Regions from separate parts of the Homo sapiens genome. Here region 2 is linked to region 1. A link means that fine-mapping ties the variant in region 1 to the expression of a gene that starts in the linked region. Tissue or cell type: whole blood. Region 1 holds a variant in brackets; the other region holds the start of a gene. All regions are shown on one strand. Distances are from middle to middle. Region 1 overlaps NCK2 (NCK adaptor protein 2). Region 2 holds the start of NCK2 (NCK adaptor protein 2).

What was found.
Region 2: it holds the start of NCK2, and the variant in region 1 is fine-mapped to the expression of NCK2 in whole blood (TOPMed, PIP above 0.99).

Annotation. Positions count from the first base shown.
Region 1 is chr2:105,766,566-105,769,470 of GRCh38, reverse strand. All of the region lies in intron 1 of NCK2 (NCK adaptor protein 2), which reads right to left. Among named protein-coding and RNA genes, the nearest start is that of NCK2, 23 kb to the right of the region's middle. RefSeq lists an enhancer at 1-238. The variant C/T (reference allele first, on the strand shown) is at 1,193.
Region 2 is chr2:105,743,585-105,746,489 of GRCh38, reverse strand. It overlaps NCK2 (NCK adaptor protein 2), which reads right to left and starts at 1,578. Exons shown (of 5, transcript NM_003581.5): 1 at 1,352-1,578. RefSeq lists enhancers at 268-317, 418-487 and silencers at 858-1,247, 1,358-1,417, 1,608-1,927.

The sequences.
Region 1 (2,905 bases):
TCCTTAGAAATGTTACTATATTTTTCCTACATTTGCTTCCTGAGAAGCAAGAACGGGGGAGTTACCAGCACAGTGAGAGTCATGATTCGTCAGACCCAGGGTAGAAAAGAATGTAAAATAGGCACGCATCAGCTGTTTTACTGAGAGGAGGGCTTTAAATAGGGCGCAGCCAGCTGGGGATGGGGAGGGGAGGGGTGGGGCGGGGCAGCAGGCTGACAGGGCTGCCCAGGTGGATAATAAAAAAGATCTCTGGTCTTGGTCCCTGGTTTCTGGCATAGAGCTCCTAAAGCCCTTGGTATTTACTGAGCAACAAGAGTGCCCTTAGTGATTCATAGAGAGCCCCAGTGCACCACACCTGAGCTTATGCTAATGAGGTGACCAGTGGGGTTGGGGGGTGCCCCTAGATAGCCTGGAGGGGAGCTGGTCATTGCCAGAAAGACAAAACGTGTGATTAGAGAGTGGGAACTTTCTGCACCCCCTACACCCCAACCTCTGGGAGGGGTGGGGGGCCAGGAGACTGGGCTGCAAAAACTCTTGAAAAATGGGATGTGGGGAGCCTCCACGTCATGAACTCATTGGGATGGTGCACTAGGAGGTGTCTCCCCCAGGGGGCATGGGGACTCCCACCCCTCGTCCCATGTGTCACTTCCTTTGGGCTGTTCCTAAGTTGCATCCTTTAAAACAGGGGTGTCCAATCTTTTGGCTTCCCTGGGCCACACACACTGTAAGAATCATCTTGGGCCATACATAAAATACACTAACATTAACTGCAGCTGATGAGAAAAAGAAAATTTCAAAAAAAACTCATCATGTTTTAAGAAAGTTTAAGTATTTGTGTTGGGCCGTATTCAAAGCCATCCTGGACCGCGGGTTGGACAACCTAGCTTTATAGGAACCACTAACAATAAGCAAAGTGCCTTTCTGAGTTCTGTGAGTTGTCCTGGCAAATTATGGAACCTGAAGTGAGGTCATGGGAACCCCAATTTACAGCCAGTTGATCAGAAGTACAGGTGGCTTAGGACATGCAACTGGTGACGGAAATGGGGATGGTCTTGTGGGACTTAGCCCTCAAAACTTGTGAGGCCGGCACGAACCCTGAAAAGCTAGTGTCAGAACTGAACCAAATTAGGGGACACCTAGGTGGTGTCAGAGAATCAGAGACCTGTTTGATAACACAGCCACCGGCCACACG[C/T]GGCCACTGAGCACTCAAGGGGTGGTGAGTCCAGCTATGTCTTGCTGTGAGGGCAAACACACACTGGACTCTACAGACAGGCAAAGAAAGCAAATGAATGGCATTAGCAATTATTTGAGTATATGTTGAAATATTTTGGTTATGTTGGACTACAGAAGACTTAAAATTTGTAGCCTTTTTCATGTGGTTACTGGGAGAGGTGAAGTTACACATCTAGCACACACTGGCAGCTTATGTTCTATTTCTGCTGGACAGTGCTGCTTGAGATGTCTTCATTTCTGAAAACACAAGTACTGATGTCCATTTTTTTGTCTCAAATTTTTCACATGTAGAAAGACAGCAACTACTTAAGGATGAGAGCCGGGGATGTGAGTAATAGAGAGGGAAGGAATTAGTATTTATTAAGTGCATATTAAGTGCTGGGAACCACCCAGTATGTCCCACAATTTCATGCTAGCAATCCCCTGAGACAATGGGTATCCTCCTCCTCCTTTCCCAGGTGCGGGCACGGAAACCTCAAACCTCGCGCCAATAAAGGGACAAAGCAGGGACTCCAATGCAGCTCTCCTGATTTCTGTTCCTTGCTGCACACTAGGGGCTGCGGTTCTTCTTCTGGAAAAGGCCTGATATTTCAGGCTTTGTGGGCCACATAGTCACAATTCCTCAATTCTGCTGTTGCAACATGGGGCAGCCACAGATGCTGTGGAAATGAATGAGCCCAGCTGGGTTCTAATAAAACTGTATTCACACCCAAACAGGTGAACTGGATTTGGTCCATGGGCCACTTTGCCAACCTCTACTGTAACCACAAAGAGTAACAGATATTCCTAAATCAATTACTGTATCATCAGTGCACCAGAATGTAACACTTATAAAGAACACCTTTCACAAAATACTAACTAGGTTATTGTGGAAACAAGGGAATAGGGAGGGTCCAATTTTGCAGGTGAACTTCCTGTTAGGCTTCTAAGCTCATATCAGACATCCAAGTAGGCCACGTCACGAGCAGTATTACATTAACAGCAAATTGCATTTGGTTCAATGACATGACATGTATGTGTGACATGAATAACATTACAAGCATATACCTGGGAATATGGAATGGTATCTATGAGATAAACACAGACGGGGGTCCAGGCTTCCAGGTCGGAGCCTCCCTGGCTCCAGAGAGATAAGCAGGCACCAGGAACCCAGCACTGGTGTGTGTGGGCCTGAACCTGGCTGACCATACGAGTAGCTGACCATAAGAGTAGGTGTGACACACCTGGGCAGGTGTCCTCAGGTGAGAAGAGTTCCTCCCAAGCGTGTCTCTTCACATCTTCTCTTCACTCCTGAGTTTCACCAACACTGCACAGGCAGCAGGAAGACGGAGCCAGAAGCCTCCAGCCAGTTACTAAACTAATTTGATGGCTTAAATATTAATTTGTAAGTCAAACTAACACTACTCACTACAGATGGAAATAGTTTGGAGGGAACGAAAATCCTGCATGCCCACAAGATGGAGGGATAGCCGAGTAAAGGAAAGGTCTGGGGACAGAGCCAGGGCTGGTTCGATGTTCACCTGCAGACCCCGCCCCCGCCAGGATTCTCCCTCACAGACTACCCTGAAAGGTGACAAGTCAACAGATACAAAGCAGTGGAGAAAAAGAAAACCTAGGCCAGGCACAGTGGCTCAAGTCTGTAATCCCTACATTTTGGGAGGCTGAGGTGGGA
Region 2 (2,905 bases), 23 kb after region 1:
CCAGGTTAATTTCATTTTCAGTCACTTTTGAGACTTGATAACTACATCTAAAACAGAGGCATGAAAAACACCCTGAATCACTTTCATTCCTACACAAAATCCCTTCCGAGAAGCGGGGACTGCGCCTGGGCCAGGAAGGGACTCCCCTACCTGTAGGTCCCAGCAAGCCACGCCCACCGGCCTCTCAGGGTTGTTTCTTTCTGGGTCGAGGGACGGAGCTGGCCCTTGCGATATTTTAGGCCCCCTCCTGCCCACACTGGGGCCTGCTCATCCCATTATGCAGATGCAAACTTGGCAGAAGCAGCCTTAAACCTGTTGGCAAAATAAACAAAGCCAAATAAAGAGGAATCTGCCAACCTGAATTGTGTGAAGTGGCCAAGGCCGACTCCACGCACGCTCGGCTTTGTCCCTGAAGCTGTTACAATACTAGTTTAAGTCAGGTGCCTGGGGTCCACCAGCCAATGACCCCTAGCATCCACCGCAGACCTTCACAGAGATCCCCATTGTCTACAAATTAAAGCGTTTTGCAAATTAAACCCCTCCACACAATGCCAAGCTAACTGTGCTCATAAGGCAGTTACCCTCCATGCCTTAAAACTCACATATCAAATTTTTCCAAAAGCACTCGGTGATTAAATCGCCCTGAAAAAAACCGAGAGAGCCGAGCGATTGTGAGAAACTTTGGTTCATTCAGGTGGCTGTTAGAGTCCTGTAAATCTGGGGCAGGGCGCAGAGCCTGAAGCCGGGCACAAAAGCTCCCTTCGCCGAAGCGAGGACCTCCTTTATGCAATGTGACAGCAGCTTTGTGCGCGAACATAAATAGTTGTAATAAACACGGTTAAGTTCTCCCGGCCGATCGCGGCCTCCCCCGTCCCTGCGCCGGGGCCCTGCGATCCGCGGCTATTCTTCCCCGGCACACGCGCCCTGGCGACCCTGGCCACCGCACGGTCCCACGCTAGCCCCGAGCTCCGTGCCGGCCGCCCGCCTGCAGGCCAGGCGCAGCCTGCGCACCCGGGGGTCTCCAGTCCCCGGGCCCCGCAGCCGGGCCCCCTGCCCTGATCCTCGCCCGCGCCCTTGGCTGGCGTCCCCGCCCCTGGGCCGGCCCCCGATGGTGGGGGTTAGGGATGGGAAGGCGGGCAGGAAGGTGCAGAGCCGGGAGGTGCCCGGCAGTCCGCGGTCGGGGGCGCCCAGGCCGCGGCAGGGCCGAGAGCACCGGAGGGGCGCGGAGGGGACCCGCTCTCCTGGCCCCTTCCCGGGCGCACCCCGGCCCGCGAGCCCCGCCGCGCTCCCAACTCCGCCCAACGGCCCCAAGTTTGTGGCCCCCGCCCCACGCCCGCCTAGCCGCGCTTACCTCGCCGTGGGCCGCCCGCGGAGCCGGAGGGCAGCGGCGCGGGTCCCGGGGCGGTGGCCGCGCTGCGCCCGCCCAGGCGCCGCTCTTTGTCTGCGCCGCTCCCTCCTCCCGCCGCCGGGCGGACGCTGCCGGCCCGGGCGGACCCTGCCGGCCCGGGCGCCGCGAGCCTCCCGGCCGCCAAGCCCTCCCCTCCGCCCGCCGCCCGCTCGGCCGCGCGGCTCCGGCCTGACGATCCCCGCGGCAGCGGCGGCGGCGGCGGCGGCGGCGGCGGCGACCCTCCCCCGGCGCGCAGCGCCCGCCTCCTCCGCGCTCTTCCTCCTCCTCCCGCGCTCCTCCCCGGCCGCGCCGTGACGCCGCCCAGGGGCCGGCCCAGGCCCGGGCGCGCGGGGCGGGGACCCGAGACCCACCTGGGGCGCCCCCCGTCGTCGCCAGGCTCCGCGCCCGGGTCCCGGTACGGGCGCCGGGATAGCGCGGGGCTGCGGGACGCTCCGCTCTGGAGGCGCAGCACGGGCCGGGCGCCGGGGGCAGGAAAGGGTCCCCACGCCCGAAATTGCGTGCGGGCGGTGGGGGGCAGGGTAGGTGGGTGGGGAGGAGAGTGAAAACACAGACGGCAACTTCCAGCCTGGGATGACTGCCGGGTGGGCTTTGCGTCCTCTTTTTTGTTTGTTCGTTGTTCTTATCACGAAGCTCTAGTTGCTGGGCAGCCGCCCCCCTCCCGGAAGCATTCCCACGGCACTCAGCTAAGCAGGCCTGTTGTCCATCAGAAAAGTGACTTAAATAAAAATGTCACTTCCTCCCTGTAATTGCTTGTGGGCATTTTTATTTATTTGCTTTGCATCTATTTACTTTCCCAACCAGACACATTTTTAGTCCATCATCCCTGTCCGAGGCACTTCCTAAAAGAAGAAGAAACTCGACCTCTGTTGCCTCCCAGGCATCCAGGCCAGCCCCAGCCTGTGGAATCCTGGTTGCACACCCGTGGGGGCAGAACCCGAAGAGGAGCTGCCCGAATGTGCCCCTAGAAGGAGTGTCGCTAATGATGGGACCGTTCAGCTCACCCAGCCTCGAGTTGTGGCTAGCCTATAAACAAACTTGGAAGATGAAAACCCAAGAGCAAGGGGAAAGACACAAGTTTCCCTTTCACAGACACATGCATCCGGATGTCTTTTCTCCTCCCCATATGGTTTCCCAAAGGAAATCCTAATATTCAAATGATTCTGATTTCCTGGCAGGATAGCCTGCATCCATGTTAATGAGATTCTTTCTTAGGCTCCTGGTCTCTGCTTACTATTAAGGCAATAATAATTTACCCAAGGTTACAAGGCTGTATTATTTGATTCACTCATCTCCTGCTTCCTTCCAGAAGGGAAGTACCCAAGGATAGGTAACTAGAGTCAGCGTAGCTTTGAAGTCAGACAGGTGAGTGTTTGACTGTTGACTTCCTGAACTGTGTAACGTTGCACAGGTGGTCCTCAGCCTTTCTAAAATCTGTCATATGGGGAGATAATATTTACTTACCTCCTATGTGAAGTACCCTGGCAGTAGGTAGCCCTC